Linked DNA regions of Homo sapiens. The protein of the gene in region 1 purifies or fractionates together with the protein of each later gene. This does not show direct contact. Each region holds a gene or a part of one and is shown on either strand. Other genes may lie near its edges. The genes, in order: SETDB2, IL1F10, SENP7, DHX16 and ZNF445.

Region 1 (3,519 bases):
TCTTGACTAACATCTTGAGAATTAAAATTGTTGATCTATTTTTGACCTATTATTCTACCTCCAGATATGTTATCCTAGGGAAATTGCCAGAGATATGTATAAAGTATATTTATTTTAGCATTATTTATTATACTAAAAATTAATCTATAAAGGAAAACAATCTAAATATCGAATATAGAGGTTTATATTATTAATTAATATTTTTATTAAAATTTAATTATTAAAATATTTAATGTACTATAATGTATGCGTTATTGACCAAAGTATGTTATACAGCCAGTTGTATTATACAAAAATATTAGTGATGGAGGAAAATGCAGGAAATGTTTTTAATGAAAGATTATAAAAAATTAAATATACTACAATCCAAATTTTTGTTTTAAAACTACATTCTGAAAGAATAACAATAATTGGTAGTATTCCTTGAATCTTTCGTATGTCAGGCACATTATATGTAATTAAGTCTTGTCCTCAGAACAACCTGTGAGATAGTTAGTATTATCCCCTTTTTAAAAGGTTTATAAAAGACTTATAAAATGGAGATAGTAATATAAATACAAATATATTAAATATGGGTGATAGGATTGGGTGGGCCTTCTCTATTATTTCTAATTTTGATACTTTACATATTTTTTCCAGATAACATAATGTTTTTTTGTAATGGTTCATGCTGTTTTAAAAGATCAAGCTGTTATAACAATATCTTATTTCCTTATATATACATATATATATATATATATATATATATATGTGGTCCTTTACAAATATGCACTATTCTTTATTGTTTTCCTTACAGAATGTTTCATCCATTTGTGGACCAAAAGATGGAGTTGGTTTTTATTTTTAAAAAGATAATGTTAATGATCTGATACCACTACAAATATTTACGTGAGAAGATTCATGGACTTGTCTTTTGGTTGGACTGTCACTCATTTCTGAAAGTTTCTTCAGCCACAATTTCTATTTGAAAATTCAAGTATCAAAGGATACCAGGTTTAGAATGGTATAATGATGTATTTTGTCTGAGGACTGCAAATTTTATAGAGACCACAGTTGGATTCCAGTGATATTCTGCAATCAAAGTGATTTGATAAACCTAATTTTGAAGCATTTTATATTTATAAGCGACATCAAAAGATGGGAGAAAAAAATGGTAGGTTGAAGAACACACTGTTACACTTTATATCTAAAAGTATAAAAGTATATAGACAATGTAAGCTGATGTGGAATTGTCAAGGTTTTGCATTGCGAGGAACTTTTCTGAATTAGAGGGAATTAAGGGTTTATTCTTGTATAGCCACCAATTTTGACTGTCTTTATCATTAGTTGTGAAAAAATTGACTTTTTTGTAAACTTTTTTTTTTTTCTTTTTTTTTGGTGATGGAGTCTCTGTCGCCCAGGCTGTAGTGCAGTAGCACAATCTTGGCTCACTGCAACCTCTGCCTCCTGGGATCAAGCGATTCTCCTGCCACAGCCTCCTGAGTAGCTGGGATTACAGGCATGTGCCACCATGCCCAGCTAATTTTTTGTATTTTTAGTAGAGATGGGGTTTCACCATGTTGGTCAGGCTGGTCTCAAACTCCTGACCTCATGATCTGTCCACCTTGGCCTCCCAAAGTGCTAGGATTACAGCACTTGCACCTGGCCAAAATAGGTGAGCCACTGCACCTGGCCAAAATACTTTTAGTGTTACAGAAAAATTGAGAGGATTGCAGAGTTCCAGTAAACCTGGTACTTAGCTTTATCTATGATTAACATTTTACATTTGGATGCTACATTTGTTACAATTAATGAACCAATATTGGCACATTATTATTAACTGAAGTCCATAGTATATTCACGTTAGTTTTTACCTGATGTCTTTTTCCATTCCAAGATCCCATCCAGGACACCACATTCCATTTACTTGTCATGTCTGCTTAGGCTCCTCCTAGCTGTGATAGTTTCTGAGACTTTTCTTGTTTTTTATTTTTTTGGGATTTTGTATCCAAATATTTTGTAAGATGCCCCTCTGTTGGAATTATTGTCTGATGTTTTTCCATAATTTGACTGGAGCGATGGGTTTTGGGGAGTGTGATCTCAGAGGTAAAATGTCATTTTCATCACATCATATCAAGGGTACATGCTGTCAGCATGATTTCTCAGAGTTGATATTGAACTTGATCAACAGAGCTTGAGCTGGCTAATGTAGGTGGTGGTATCAAATTTCTCCACTGTAAAGTTACTCTTTTTCTCCCATTCCCTGCTATACTCTTCGGAAATAAATCACTATAGGTAGCCCACAGTTAAGGAGTGGGGATTTATGCTCCCCCTCCTTAAATGTGGAATATCTACGTTAATTATATTTGGAATATTTCTGCAGGGGAGATTTATCTCTCTCTCTTCTTCCCTGTTTATTTATTCAGTTAATCATTTATATCAGCATGGACTCATGGCTATTTATTTTATACTTTTTGAGTTACAAGCCAGTACTACTTTATTTATTTTGTTTTTCAAATTGTCCCGGGTTTGGCTATTGGGAGCTCTTTCAGTTGGCTCTTTTTTTTCTTTTTTTTTTTAAGATGGCGTCTCACTCTGTTGCCCAGGTTCATGTGCAGCAGCGCAATCTTGGCTCACTGCAACCTCTGCCTCCTGGGTTCAAGCAATTCTCTTGCCTCAGCCTCCTGAGTAGCTAGGATTACAGGTGTGTGCCGCCACGCCCAGCTAATTTTTGTATTTTTAGTAGAGATGGGGGTTTCACCATATTGGCCAGGCTGGTCTCGAACTCCTGACCTCAAGTGATCCACCCGCCTTAGCCTCCCAAAGCGCTGGGATTACAGGCATGAACCACCATGTCCTGCTCAGTTGGCTCTTGTGTCCCTTTGATATACCGTCATCAGTGTAGGTATTTTTTATTTGTCTTTGTTTTATAGCACTTCCCTTTTGGCACTCGAAGATTGCTCTAGATTGCTCTCGTATATTTCTTACGCATCTTAGAGTGAGCCATTTCTTGAATAACCTGTCAATATTTTTATTGGAAAATGGTATTAGAAACCAAGGTCTGAATGATAGGTGTATTTGTTGTTACTGGAGTGTCCTTGTTTATAGGCCCTTTCAGCTGGCAGAGCAATGAAGTATATATATATATACTAACTTATATATACACAACTCATGGCTATAAATATTTCTATATGTAACTGTTTGTATCTGCCTTAAGCTAACCATGAAATTACGCTGATGTTTCCAACTCTAATCTATTACCACGTGGATCATTTTAGTCTCCTCACCTTATCTGTATGCTCCCACTCCAGTAGTAAAAAACTTAGTTCCCATCACCCACCATCCATTTACTTAATTGTTCAATTCCAGTATATATATGTAGCAGTATCAGAATTGTTAACCCTTGACTGGGCACCGTGGCTTATACCTATAATCCCAGCACTTTGAAAGGCCGAGGCCAGGAGTTAGACCAGCCTGGTAAACATGGCAAAATCCTGTCTCTACTTAAAAAAAAATAATAATAGTAATACAAAGTGGCAC
Region 2 (2,706 bases), on another chromosome or scaffold:
CAGGTGATGCAGATGGGCAGGCACATTTAGGAGCCAATGACTTTAACTGAACACTTCATTTAAAAAATGTTGAAACTTACTTGATACTACAAAGGAAATTCATGTTCATTATAGGAAAATGTTGATATGTTTAAAAAATTACTCATAAAGCCATAGGTAAGTGGTGCAACAACACGAGTAACATTTCTATGTATGTGTCTCTATGTGTGGATTTAAATAGAATTACAGTGTACACTTGATTTATAATCTGCATTTTTCACCTAATATATTTTGAAAATTTTTATGTCCTAAAACAAGCTTCTATAATATCATCTTTAACAAACACATACATCCTTATTTATTGAATTTTGCTATAATTTCTTAGCCAATTACCTATTACTGAAAATTCAGATTTTTTTCAACTTCTTGCTATTGTAAAAAATTATGCAGTGAACATTTTTGTAAGTAAACATTTGGGCAATCCGTTATTTTTCCTAAGAGTAAGGGAAACACATGCAATCACAAAGTATACAGAATGCTTTAAGACTTTCATTCACAGCACCAACATCCCTCCAGAATTTGCACTTGTTAGTCCCTATTATCCTTCACTCTAAGTCTCAAAGTCATACCCCAAGGCCTGGGGACAGAAAATGACTTGTCCAAAGTGACAGTGACAGACCCAGTACTAAAAGCCACCTTGGCTACAGCCCTGTTTCTGGAACTTGAGAGCTGAGGTGGTTGGAAGCCGTATCCTCAGCACCCACCTGTTCCTTCTCACCTGCCTCCCCAGGGTCCCTCAGCATCTCTCTATTCCTCCCTGAGCCCTATTACTTTCTTCCACCTGCCTTCTTCCTTTCTCTTCTCTCATTTTCTGCTTTCTTATATTTTTTCTTCTCTATTCCCTTCTTATTTGGTGAGAATCAGATCTACTCGGTAAACCTCAGCCCTAGTCATACTTGCGTTACTTTCCTGAGCTAATTTCCAACTCCTGATTAGCTCTGGGTTTATTTCCATGCTAAATTCTGGACTGGCCTTTCCAATGGGTGTTCATTTTAGGGAAGAGCTCTAGGACAGGATAACCCATCGGGAAGGAGCAGAGTCATGTGAGGCTGTGTGGCCTGGCATTTATACAGGGCCACTATCTTCACTGTGCCATTTTCCATCTGGAACAGAATGGGGGAGTTTGGATGGGCTGTTTTCGGCAGTCTTGGCCAAGCACTTCTAGTCACTAGGAATGATGTTTTCCAACTCTCTGGGGAGACCCCACCAGCCTCACTGCTGCTGGAGACCCCTTCTAGTTGTGCTCTCTTCTTTCACTCTGGGCTCTAGTTATCTAACCCTTGGCTAGTTATGGGGGCGGGGGTGTGGTGCCCTGTTGGCCAACAGGGCAGTGGGACTGGGTTTGAGCTGGGCTTATCCTCCAACTGTGAGGGAGGCTACAGCACACTCCACCCCACTCTCAGGGCTGGGAATTGTTGTGGCTCAGCTATTTGGGGGAATCTGTTTTCCAGTTTCTCAGAACCAGCGCAAGCACACACATCCCAGGCTCACACCCCTGGTGGCTGGACTTGCTCCCGGATAGCCTCAGTCAGGGAGAGGCAGAGCTGCCTGGAGCCTGCTGGGCTGGTGGAAGCCTTGGTGGATTCTGGCAGGCCAATTATAGACGAATGGCCTGGGGAACCCGTGCAGCCCTTGGCTGAGTGGTTCTAAGCCCCAGCACGTCTGCCTCTGGCTTCACCCAGCCTCCTTTTCTAACTGCCCTTCTCTCCTCCCCATCAGTGAGGACCAGACACCACTGATTGCAGGAATGTGTTCCCTCCCCATGGCAAGATACTACATGTAAGTTGTCCTGGCATGTCCCTGCTTTCCAAGCCAGGGGGTCAGGGTGGGAAGAGGAAAGGAATGCTGAGTCAGAGGATGAGGCTCCTTCTCACCTTAGAAATTGCAAGTGCCCCATAATTAAGCTTCATCATCACCACAGTAGCAACAGCTCTTTCCTGAACGTCTGCAAGATGCCAGCCAATCTACTGCCTCATCTCTGTTCCAAAAAGTCTGTAAGTGGAGTGTTATTAAACCCATTTTACAGATCTGGAAGCTGAGGCTCAAAGAGGGTAAATAACTTCCCCCATGTCACACAGCTACCAAAAGGCAGAGCCAGGAATCAGACTTCATGTCCTCTGTGCTGCTCCATCCGCCTCTCTGAAATGTCAGAAAGTTTTGAATCTCAATGACAGCATCTTGATGGTGGTCCCTGTGGCCTTTACTCCCAGTGTGGGCTTCTAACACTTACTTACATTTCATCTCATTTGAGATTTGCATCCTTCCTTATCTTTTACTACTTTGTTGTCTGTGATTTTGTCATAAGCTCCTTTCAGGAAGGAGGTGAGGCATAAGAAAAATCAAAGAGGACTCTGGGATGCATTTCCTCTGCCCCTCCCATGGACCCTGTAATGTCCAGGGCTGTGTCCTGGACAAGGTGGGTGGGGAGCAGTCCTGGTCTCAAGGAGGTGACAGCCTGGCTGGGAAGCAAGACACATACATAGGAAGCACATAAATGACAAAGCAGATGTCAGCACTTCAGGGCATCTAATCTGGGTTCTGGTCTCCAAATAGAATGCTGCTGGCATGTGAGTTGTCACATCTGGGTTGTCAAGGTGGCAAGGGGAATGCCAGATAACACGCCCAGGATCTTTCCGGAAGTTTATTTTTATTGTACAAGTGAACCTG
Region 3 (3,519 bases), on another chromosome or scaffold:
ATTCAAACTTAAATTTATGCCTGTTTCTGCACTTCTGTTGGTCTTTATGCCTCTTATATGATAATTATCAGATTCCATCATATATTCTAGCTTGCTGAGTTGTCTAATGTCTACTTCTATACTATTAACACTGTGACAGGGACTGTCATTAATTTTATTTCCCCATAGCATCCAGTATGCCTAGAGTGTACTGGTTTAGAGTACCATCTCTGGAATATGACCGGTGATGGATCACTATGGTAACGTTGGGCAAGTTATTTGGATTCCTCAAATCTTAATTTCTTAATCTATAAGATGGAGATTATACATTATTGATTTCATGATATAAGGATTAAGGAAAATAATTTGTGTAAAGCACTTAGCATAATTCCAGGCAATGATAATTACTATTATGTCAAATAAATAGGCTGGGTGCTGTGGCCCATGCCTGTAATCCCAGCACTTTGGGAGGCCAAGGTGGGCAGATCACTTGAGCTCAGGAGTTCGAGACCAGCCTGGCCAATATGGTGAAACTCTCTCTCTACTAAACATAAAAAATTAGCCAGGCATGGTGCTTCCTGCCTGTAGTCCCAGGTACTGGGGAGGCTGAAGCGGGAGAATCGCTTGAACCTGGGAGGTGGAGGTTGCAGTGAGCCGAGATCGTGCCACTGCACTCCAGCGTGGGTGACAGAGCAAGACTCCGTCTCAAAAAAAAAAAAAAAAAATTATGGAATAAATAAGTGAATGAGTGGGAAAAGTTATGCTTTTAGTTTTTTGACTCATATATTTAGAATGAGAGTAATTGGAGAGATTTTCCTATATGCTAATGCTAATATACTACAGTCTTTTAAAGGGAGATACTTGACTATAAAATGTTATAGTTACCATTTCTTTTGCACTAACTATGTGTTAGTCATAATGCTAAATGCCTTAATATGGACTATCATGCTTTAATCTGAACGATTAAAAAGGCAGATATTCTCCGCCATTTTACAGATGAGAAACTGAGACTCAGAGAAGTCACAACTAGTAAGCCGAGATACAAATTTAGGTTGTCTAGCTTTAAAATATGTACTCTTGAGCATGGTAACTATACCATACAGTCTCAAGTCGAGGCACATCATATGCTTATTTAAACACTCCAGAGCTAACCTGGTATAAGATGGAGCAAGTCAGCTATAAAAAAATTGTAAATTTTTTTATTAGACAAAGTTGGCCAAGAAGAAAAAAACATAAATATTTGGGAATTCACAGTAGCATTAATGAAAGGAAATAGGGGAACATACTACAAAACAGGATGGAAGCACTTTTAACCCAGTGAGACATTTTTGGGATATAAATTTGTAAATTAAAATTTAAGAAACTGACATTCCTTTTAAAATGACATGTACTTTTTTATTTGTATAAATTTAAGGGTTACAAGTACAGCTTTGTTATATGGGTATATTGTGTGGTGGTGAAATCTGGGCTTTTAGTGTAATCATCACCTGAATAGTGTACATTGTACCCATTAAGTAATTTCTTATCCCTCACTGCACTGCTCCTAGCCTTCCAAGTCTTCAATGACTGTTATTCCACACTCTATGTCCATGTGTATACACATTATTTAGCCCCTACTTATAGTGAGAATATGTGGTATTTGACTTTCTGAGTTCTTTTTTTTTCTTTTTTCTTTTTCTTTTTGAAATGGTTTCGCTCTGTCGTCCAGACTGGAGTGCAGTGGTGCAAAAACGGCCCACTGCAGCCTCGACCTCCTGGGCTCAAGCGATTCTCCACATGCCTCACTGCAGCCTTGACCTCCTGGGCTCAAGCGATTTTCCCACCTCAGCCTCCCAAGCAGCTGAGACCACAGGTGGTGTCACTGTACCTAGCTAATTCAAATAAATATTTTTAGAGACAGGGTCTCACCATGTGGTGCAGGCTGGTCCCAAACTCCTGGGCTCAAGCAGTCATCCTGCCTTGGCCTCCCAAAGTGTTGGGATTATAGGTGTGAGCTTCTAATCTGAGTTGTTTCACTGAAGATGAAGGTCTCCAGTTCTGTGTTACTGTAAAAGACGTGAGTTCATTCCTTTTTCATTCCGGAATAGTATTCCATTGTGTATATGTAGATATGTGTTTTGTTAAATTTAAAATTGACTAGAAAATGAATTTCTACAGGATACTTTCTTATCACTTATTTAAAAAATTCTTTATTTTTGGTAGTCAACTTGAGTACTAGTTTATTTAAATTATTTGAAGTTATCAAAAGCTTAAGTGTAGAGGTGAAAATAATTTTTTTTTTTTTTTGAGATGGAATTTTGCCCTCGTTGCCTAGGATGGAGTGCAATGGTGTGATCTTGGCTCACTGCAACCTCTGCCTCCTGGGTTTGAGCGATTTTCCTGTCTCAGCCTCCTGAGTAGCTGGGATTATAGGCACCTGCCACTACACCCAGCTAATTTTTTTTTTTTTGTATTTTTAATAGAGACGGGTTTCCCCATGTTGACCAGGCTGGTCTCGAACTCCTGACCTCAAGTGATCCAACCACCTCGGCCTCCCATTAGTGCTGGGATTACAGGCATCAGCCACCGCGCCTGGCCCAAAAATAATTTTTTAGATCAGGAAAACATTACATGGTTTCTCAGCAAGTGCATGTAGTGAAACTAATGCTGTGTATTATGAACTTAGAAGAAATCATTTCAGCAATATAGATTTCTGGGTAGTCTATATTTCATTAGTTATTATTATTATTTCTGATTTTAAGTACCATACAGTACACATATCTTTAGTGTATAGTTCAGTGACTTTTTTTTTTTTTAATTTGAGACAGTGTCTTGCTCTGTTGCCCAGGCTGGAGTGCAGTGGTGCCATCATGGCTCACTGCAGCCTCAACTGCCTGGTTCAAGTGATCTTCCCACCTCAGCCTACTGAGTAGCTGGGAGTGCAGGTGCACACCACCACACTCAGCTAATTTTTGTACTTTTTTATGCAGACGGGGTTTCACCCTTTTGCCCAGGCTGTTCTCAAACTCCTGAGCTCAAGCGATCTACCCACCTCAGCCTCCCAAACTGCTGGGATTACAGGCATGTGCCACCATGCCTGGCCCCCATCACTGTTTTAACTAGTGTTACCATAGGTTTATTTTAACTCTTCTTGAATTTCTGAGAAATAGAATCATATACTCTTCTGCATCTGGTTTCCTTTGAGCATGCCTGAGAAATGTATCCATATTGTGCGTAGCAGTAATTCATTATCTTTTATTGCTATACAGTTTTCCATTATATGAATATGTTTATCCATACTTGATGGATATTTGGGTTGTTTCCAGTTTTTGGATATTAAGAACAAAAATACCTGAATATTCTTATTTCTGTTGGTTATTTATCTAAAAGTGTAATTGTTGGACATTGCATAGGCAGGTGTCTAACTTCAGTAGATGCTGGTGAAGCAGATGTACTCATTTACACTCTTAGCAAGAGTATATGAGTTCCAGTCTCTCACCAATATTTGGTGTTGTCAATCTTTTTACTTTTACCCATTCTAAAGGCTGTTTAATGGTTTTC
Region 4 (4,047 bases), on another chromosome or scaffold:
AGGAGGCTGAGGCAGGAGAATCACTTGAACCTGGGAGGCGGAAGTTGCAGTGAGCCGAGATCGTGCCATTGCACTCCAGTCTGGGCAACAGAGCGAGACTCTGTCTCCAAAAAAAAAAAAAAAAATTCTCCTGTCTCAGTCTCCAGAGTAGCTGGGACTACAGGTGCACACCTCCACACCTGGCTAATTTTTTGTAGAGATGGTGGGGTCTCACCCTGTTGCCCAGGCTGGTCTCAAACCCCTGGTCTCAAGATATCCTCCTGCCTCAGCCTCCCAAAGTGCTGGGATTACAGCAAGAGCCACTGCACCTGGCCTTGCTTACTTTTAAATAAGCAGCCACCAGTGATTTTCTCAAGCTGTTAAGCAAAAATGCAGAACACAGTTTGCCTGTTCCTTAGTTTGGAGATTTTGTCTTTAACAACTTTCCCCAGTTCCCCAGTTTCTTCCTGCCTAGAGGTCTTCCCTTATACCTGACCTGTCTTCACTCCTGCTGCAGGCAAACCAGTCCTAGCAACGGTCACTTTTTTGTTTGTTTGAGACAGAGACTTCCTCTGTTGCTCAGGCTGGAGTGCCGTGGTGGGATCTCGGCTCACTGCAAACTCTGCTTCCCATGTTCAAATGATTCTCCTGCCTCAGCCTCCCGAGTGGCTGGGACTACAGGCGCACACCACCACGCCAGGCTAATTTTTATATTTTTAGTAGAGACAGGGTTTCGCCATCTTGGCCAGGCTGGTCTCGAACTCCTGACCTCAGATAATCCGCCCGCCTTGGCCTCCCAAAGTGCTGGGATTACAGGCATGAGCCACCGCGCCCGGCCAACAATGCTAATATGTTTTATGAGCATGGACCCGATCTTCCAATCTGAAATAGAATTTCATTCCTCCCTTACTTTGTATAGTTTTTGGCTCTATAAAATTTCCATACTTTCTTTATTATGTATCCTGTCCCTCCCCCACCGCAAAATGTAAATTTGGTAAGGAACTTTTGATTTGTCCTCTGCTATATCCCAGGGACGGAAAGCAATGAGCACACATTAGGCATCCATTAAATTAATTTCACTTGTTGAATGAATGCGTGAGCGAAGCACTCACAGACTGACCATCAGGGGGCGTCAGAGAAACTGGACAGAGGCGAAATGAAGAAAAAAGAATTACCCCGAGTTTTCAGGTATGGTTCCGCGAGGTTTGAACTCGCTCGGCCACCGTAGTGCTTAGAGGCCGAAAAAGTACAGCCCCTTCCGGGCTCCGCGGTACGGGAAGACAGCTTTGGGATGTCGGAAGATCCTAGAGGTCCCAAGGTAGCTGACTTGCGAAGCTGAGGCTCCAGCCGAGGGCTCCAGGCCTCTGACCGGCCCAGCAGTGAGCGCGGCTGCCCGACGCTTCAGGGCCGGGAGCAGGGAGCGTGAGTCGCCATGGCGACGCCGGCGGGTCTGGAGCGCTGGGTTCAGGACGAGCTGCACTCGGTGTTGGGGCTGAGCGAGCGGCACGTCGCCCAGTTTCTGATCGGTACCGCACAGCGCTGCACCTCTGCCGAGGAGTTCGTGCAGCGCCTACGAGACACTGATACCTTGGATCTCAGTGGGCCGGCCCGGGACTTCGCCCTGAGACTCTGGAACAAGGTGTCGGCAGGGGTGGGGAGGGGCCCTGTGATTTGTCCCGGTGAGGCTGGCCTAACGGTCCATCGAGAAGTTAAGAAAGCTCAGTTCACAAGCACTTATTCTTTGTCCGTTGTCGCGTAGGTACTGTGCTAGCTGCTGGACGCCCAGCTCAGTGGAGAAGATTGAGGAGGGCTTAGGTGTGTCGGGTTAAGCGCAATAGAACGGTGTTTCTCGAACTCTTAACATGCATCCAAGGTTCTTGTTAAAATGCAGATTGCGATTCAGTAGGGATCTTAGTTTCTGCATTTCTTTCTTTCTTTTTTTTTTTTTTGAGAGACACAGTCTCGCTCGCCCCGTCGCCCAGGCTGGAGTGCGGTCGTAAGATCACGGCTCACTACAGCGTCGACCTCCCTGGTTGAAGCGACCCTCCCACCTCATCTTCCCCGGTAGCTGGGACTACGGGCGCGCGCCACCACCCCCGGCTAATATCTTTTATTTTTATTTTTATTTTTAGAGATGAGGCCTTGGTGTGTTGCGCAGGCTGGTCTCTAACTCCTCAGCTCAAGCAATCCTCTCTCAGCCCCCTCAGAGTGCTGAGATTACAGGCGTGAGCCACCATGCCCGGCCCCCCTCATCTTCTGAACTTCCTTTCAGTCGTTTAATTAACAGAGGGGGCCGGGTGCAGTGGCTCACACCTGTAATCCCAGCACCCCGGGAGGCTGAGGCAGGAGGATTACTTGAGCCCAGGAGTTCGAGACCAGCCTGGGCAACATGGCGAAACCTTCGTCCTACAAAAAAATTAAAAATTAGTTGAGCGTGGTAGTGTGCACCTGTGTTTCTAGCTACTTAGGAGCCTGAGGTGGGAGGATCCCTTGAGCCCAAGAGGGACAGAGTGAAACCCTGTCTGTAAAAAAAAATAAAAAACCCCATTCAGGATGATGAAGATGGGGTGAAGCCATGAGGAAGAAAGAGAATGAATGCTGGTTAGCTGGTTTAAAACTAAGTAATTGTGCCCGGGTGTGGTGGCTCATGCCTGTAATCCCAGCACTTTGGGAGGCTGAGGTGAGTGGATCATGAGGTCAGGAGTTTGAGACCAGCCTGGCCAACATGGTGAAACCTCATCTCTACTAAAAATACAAAAATAGTCGGGCGTGGTGGCATGTGCCTGTAATCTCAGCTACTTGGGAGGCTGAGGCAGGAGAATTGCTTGAACCTGGGAGGCGGAGGTTGAAGTGAGCCGAGATCACGCCATTGCCTGACAGTGGGGCCGGGCCGCGGGGGCAGGAAAGACTAAGTAATTGCTTAAATTAGGAACAGAGCTAAGTGGGAGGGCAGAGATCAGGAGTTGCTCAGACCTCCTTATCTTCCCCTCTACTGACAGGTACCACGAAAGGCAGTGGTAGAAAAGCCAGCTCGGGCAGCAGAGCGAGAGGCCCGGGCCCTGCTGGAGAAGAACCGATCTTATAGGTTACTGGAAGACAGTGAAGAGAGCAGTGAGGAGACTGTGAGTAGGGCTGGAAGCAGCCTCCAGAAGAAACGTAAAAAGCGGAAACACCTCAGGAAGAAGCGTGAGGAAGAAGAGGAGGAAGAGGCTTCTGAGAAAGGGAAGAAGAAAACAGGGTAAGTCAGAAGCAGGGTGAGAGAGGATGGGGCAGGCTGAAGTGTTCTCTATGCCCTTATTTAATCCCCTGGATGGGCTGCAGGGGGAGTAAACAGCAGACAGAGAAGCCAGAGTCGGAAGATGAGTGGGAACGGACAGAGCGTGAACGCCTTCAGGACCTGGAGGAGCGTGATGCCTTTGCTGAGCGGGTTCGACAGCGGGACAAGGATCGGACTCGAAATGTCCTGGAACGGTCAGACAAGAAGGTGAATAGGAGCAGCATGTTCTGTAAATCCCCAAGATCCCAGGGTGAAATCTGAGGTTGGCTGTGAGTGCAGAGATAGTGATCTCTGGGAAGACAAGGGGCTGTCTCTAGTGAGATGTTCACCTCTGTGGTGAGAGAAGCCCTGTGCATCCTGTGGCTAAGACAACTGTCTGCTGTACCTGCAATCAGAGAGATTCCTCACTGAGAGGGGACATTTTTTGTGTTAGGGCGCATCTGAATGATCCTTGTGATTCTAGAGGGGAGCAGCTGTCAGTGTGGGGGCTCTTTGGCCTCACACCCCTCCATTCTTGTTTTTTCTTCTAGGCTTATGAAGAGGCTCAGAAGCGCCTCAAGATGGCCGAGGAAGACCGGAAGGCCATGGTGAGTCCCAGGGCCTAGGGAGCCAAGATCAGAAGACAAAAGGAAAGACTTTCTGATAGAGTGTATAGGGAGAGAGGATACAGAGGAAGCACAGTGTGGATGCTGATGGGGTGGTCAGGTTTCTAGAAGAGGGGCTTGGTTGTTAGGAGCCAGCTGAGGATAGACTTATGTTGTTGAGGGAAGGATCCTTCTTAAGTTGTAGGG
Region 5 (3,519 bases), on another chromosome or scaffold:
TTCTGGATGCAGGTGATCTGTACAGAGTCAGCTGATCCTGTGTCTGTGGAACATTAATGGCAGCACTGCTTGTATTTCTCTTTTTCTTCAACTTTTATTTTTTTTCTTCCATTGTTGCTGGCTACTCCTTTTCTTTGTTTCTGTTTTCTTTCTGGATAGGTTTTTTATTTTTGTTTTGCATGTTGTGTTTTGGTAGCATTTTGCTCTTCTTGTTCTCTACCTCACTTGCCTGTTTTTTTTTCTCCTTACATCTGTTCAACTGGAGAACATCCTTTTGTAGTTGCTTGAGCTGAAGCCATGGTTTGTACTCAAGTCCCCCCTCAAGAATGTGCTGTCCCTTCTACTGTGCATCTGCCATCTTCAATCCTACGAGTTGCTACTCAATTGCTTTGCTTCTTAAGAGAATTATTGATCACTTTGCTGTTTATAAATGTAATGGGTAACAATTTAGGCAACATAGGCAAATAAGGAAGGAGAGCCCTTTCATCCCACCTCCCAGAGGAAATCATGGCTAAAAATACTTTGGTAGTGAGGCTTAGGAGCTTTTATGTGCATATGTAAACTGCTTTGCTTTTCATTTGCTTTAAGACATAAATGACAGTATAACTATGCTTTCTAATAATTGCTTTTCAATTTTCTTTTCTTTTAGGAAATAGAAGACAAAAAAAATATAAAGTTGCTTTTAAATGCAATTCTCTACCTTCCTACCCCCACCACCAGTAAGAGTTTTTGTGAATCCTTCCAGGCTTTTAAAATTTCTTTGAGTAGTTATAGGTACATTCACATACATGCGTATACAGTCACACACACACACGGTTGTACGTTTTGTTTTCACAATTCGTATTTAGGATGTGCTTTCAAACTTAGCACATATTTTTGTTATTGTTGGGAAAAGCAGTCGTGCACAGTTTCTCTCTCCTTACTTGGCTGTGTAGGAGTGTCCTTGGACGCCAGGCATTGTGGCTCATGCCTGTAATCCCAGTGCTTTGGGAGGCCAAGTCAGGAGGCTCTCTTGAAGCCAGGAGTTTGAGACTGGCCTGGGCAACATAGTGAGACCCTATCGCTAAAAAAAAGTCAGGCAGAGTGAGGGTGGCACATGTCTGTAGTCTCAGCTATTCAGGAGGTTGAGGTGGGAGGATCACTTGAACCCAGGAGTTTGAGGCTGCAGTGAGCTGTGATCGTGCTACTGCACTCCAGCCTGGATGACAGAGTGAGAAAAAAGAGTGGCCTCGGGCCTGAGACATTTCCTTACAAGAGCGAAAGAGTCCTCACAACCTTTGCTGGGTTTAACATCTTGTGACTGTAGGTGTCACATCTTGTGAGGGACTATCTTGTTTTTCTGCACTTGATGTACTCCTTTGTTTTGTTTGTTTTGTTTTGTTTTGTTTTTGTTTTTGTTTTTGAGATGGAGTTTTGCTTTGTCACCCAGGCTGGAGTGCAGTGGCACGATCTTGGCTCACTGCAACCTCTGCCTCCTGGGTTCAAGTGGTTCTCCTGCCTCAGCCTCCTGAGTAGCTGGGATTACAGCTGTACGTCTCCACGCCTGGCTAATTTTTGTATTTTTAATAGAGATGGGGTTTCGCCATGTTTGCCAGGCTGTTCTCAAACTCCTGACCTCAGGTAATGTGCCAGCCTTAGCCTCCCAAAGTGCTGGGATTACAGGTGCAAGCCACCATGCCAGGCCTCCTTTGTTCTGTTTCTGAGTGCATGAATCAGCAGCCGTCATGCATGTTCCTATCTTTCTTCATTTCAGACCCCACAGAGGAGGGGTTAAGGTCTTTCTACTGCAATATGAAGCGTGTATACACACACCACCTGTGTAGACTGTGGAGTGGTTCTGCTGGCCACGAGGGACCAACACATTGCAAGTGGCTGGATCTTGTGAACCCTCCATCTCCATAAGTAAACATTGTACCTCTTGAGCTTGGTGGGGGTGGTGTCTTTTCTCAGTGACCTCAAGTCATACACTGTCTCTTCCTTGGGTGACACCTAGTTGCCTTGTAACTTTGGCTACAGAGCCTTATCACCTGGTGTACAGTAAAGCAGTTATGTTGATGTATAACAATTCTAGTACATTCCTTTTAGGTGTGTGAGTATTTCATCCTATAAAATGCTTTTTTTTTTTTTTTTTGAGACAGACTCTCACTATCCTCCCAAAATACTGGAATTACAGGCATGAGTCACTGCACCTGGCCAAATGCTACACTTTTATAACCTCCCAAGAGGTTCACCTTGCCTGCTGCCTAGACAGAGCTGATTCAAGATGGGAATTGCAATAGAGAAAGAGTAATTCACGCAGAGCCGGCTGTGTGGGAGACTGGGGTTTTATTATTACTCAAAGCAGTCTCCCCCAGCATTTGCGGAGCAAAGTTTTTAAGGATAACTTGGTGGGTTGGGGGAAGCCAGTGAGCCAGGAGTGCTGATTGGTCAGAGATGAAATCATAGCGAGTCACAGCTGTCGTCTTGTGCTGAGTCAGCTCCTCGGGGGGAGGGGGTGGAGGGGTGGGGGCGGGCCACAAGATCAGATGAGCCAGTTTATTGATCTGGGTTGTGCCAGCTAATCCATCAAGTGCAGGGGCTGCAAAATACCTCAAGCACTGATCTTAGGAGCAGTTTAGGGAGGGTCAGAATCTTGTAACCTCCAGCTGCATGACTCCTAAACCATAATTTCTAATCTTGTGGCTAATGTTAGTCCCGCAAAGGCAATCTAGTCTCCAGGCAAGAAGGAGATCTGCTTTGGGAAAGATCTGTTACTGTCTTTATTTAAACTATAAACTGTAAGTTTCTCCCAAAGTTAGTTCAGCCTGTGCCCAGGAATGAACAAGGACAGCTTGGAGGTTAGAAGCAAGATGGAGTTAGTTAAGTTAGATCTCTTTCACTGTCTCAGTCATAATTTTGCAATGACAGTTTCAGTCCCTCCCTTTGGATTTTATAACACCTTAATAAGGTGTAAGTTATGAAGGTGGGAAAAGGCTGTTGATTGCTCTGGCTTCTTCCTCCTGACAGGGGACATAGTGGGAATGGGAGTGAACCCCAGCGTGAGAAGAGTGGAACTGCTTTGCAACTGTCTGAGTGTACTCACGCAGGCTTGGCCAGGCGTTCATGGCTTGCATGGCTAGAACATTAGTATTTTCATCTGTAATTTTACTGCAGTATTTAAGTGAAACAGCCTACTATAAGGTAAATAATGAGTCCTAGGATGAGGAGTACAATTCCCAATTTTAAAAGCAAAGATTTGAAAGTATTAGTTTGGGGACTTCTAACCCACAAAGAATTTAGAATTTTGTTTAAACTGCAGAAAAAAACCCTCAAGAACAGCTACAATATTGTACTATAGTTTTTCTTTTGAAGCATAATTTTCTCTCTCCAATCCCCATTTTTATTAAAAACAAATCATGATAGGACTGATTTGTTTACAAAATAAACTTTAGCCTTACTGTGCTTGGCCTGATTATTTGCATAAAGTGCAGCAAGAATAATTATTTTTCACTTAGGCTTTTTAAGTTGGTTTTGATAGAA

What was found.
Region 2: the proteins of SETDB2 (region 1) and IL1F10 purify together in Homo sapiens (affinity purification with mass spectrometry; one large-scale study listed by BioGRID and IntAct). This does not show direct contact.
Region 3: the proteins of SETDB2 (region 1) and SENP7 purify together in Homo sapiens (affinity purification with mass spectrometry; 2 studies listed by BioGRID and IntAct, with this or other methods). This does not show direct contact.
Region 4: the proteins of SETDB2 (region 1) and DHX16 purify together in Homo sapiens (affinity purification with mass spectrometry; 2 studies listed by BioGRID and IntAct, with this or other methods). This does not show direct contact.
Region 5: the proteins of SETDB2 (region 1) and ZNF445 purify together in Homo sapiens (affinity purification with mass spectrometry; 2 studies listed by BioGRID and IntAct, with this or other methods). This does not show direct contact.

The regions. Positions count from the first base shown.
Region 1 is NC_000013.11:49,450,757-49,454,275, forward strand, and holds part of SETDB2 (histone-lysine N-methyltransferase SETDB2), read left to right. Parts: intron 1-796; 5' UTR 797-1,137; coding exon 1,138-1,153; intron 1,154-3,519. Other genes in the region: SETDB2-PHF11 protein, read left to right, coding at 1,138-1,153. UniProt on the Homo sapiens protein: Histone methyltransferase involved in left-right axis specification in early development and mitosis. Specifically trimethylates 'Lys-9' of histone H3 (H3K9me3).
Region 2 is NC_000002.12:113,070,953-113,073,658, forward strand, and holds part of IL1F10 (interleukin-1 family member 10), read left to right. Parts: intron 1-1,365; exon of another isoform or gene 1,366-1,758; 5' UTR 1,759-1,786; coding exon 1,787-1,818; intron 1,819-2,706. UniProt on the Homo sapiens protein: Cytokine with immunomodulatory activity. Alone, does not induce cytokine production, but reduces IL22 and IL17A production by T-cells in response to heat-killed Candida albicans. Reduces IL36G-induced production of IL8 by peripheral blood mononuclear cells.
Region 3 is NC_000003.12:101,503,206-101,506,724, reverse strand, and holds part of SENP7 (sentrin-specific protease 7), read left to right. Parts: intron 1-3,519. UniProt on the Homo sapiens protein: Protease that acts as a positive regulator of the cGAS-STING pathway by catalyzing desumoylation of CGAS. Desumoylation of CGAS promotes DNA-binding activity of CGAS, subsequent oligomerization and activation.
Region 4 is NC_000006.12:30,670,206-30,674,252, reverse strand, and holds the start of DHX16 (pre-mRNA-splicing factor ATP-dependent RNA helicase DHX16), read left to right. Parts: upstream 1-1,246; 5' UTR 1,247-1,270; coding exon of another isoform or gene 1,271-1,297; 5' UTR 1,298-1,411; coding exon 1,412-1,618; intron 1,619-2,978; coding exon 2,979-3,217; intron 3,218-3,300; coding exon 3,301-3,463; intron 3,464-3,786; coding exon 3,787-3,843; intron 3,844-4,047. UniProt on the Homo sapiens protein: Required for pre-mRNA splicing as a component of the spliceosome. Contributes to pre-mRNA splicing after spliceosome formation and prior to the first transesterification reaction.
Region 5 is NC_000003.12:44,467,652-44,471,170, reverse strand, and holds part of ZNF445 (zinc finger protein 445), read left to right. Parts: intron 1-3,519. UniProt on the Homo sapiens protein: Transcription regulator required to maintain maternal and paternal gene imprinting, a process by which gene expression is restricted in a parent of origin-specific manner by epigenetic modification of genomic DNA and chromatin, including DNA methylation.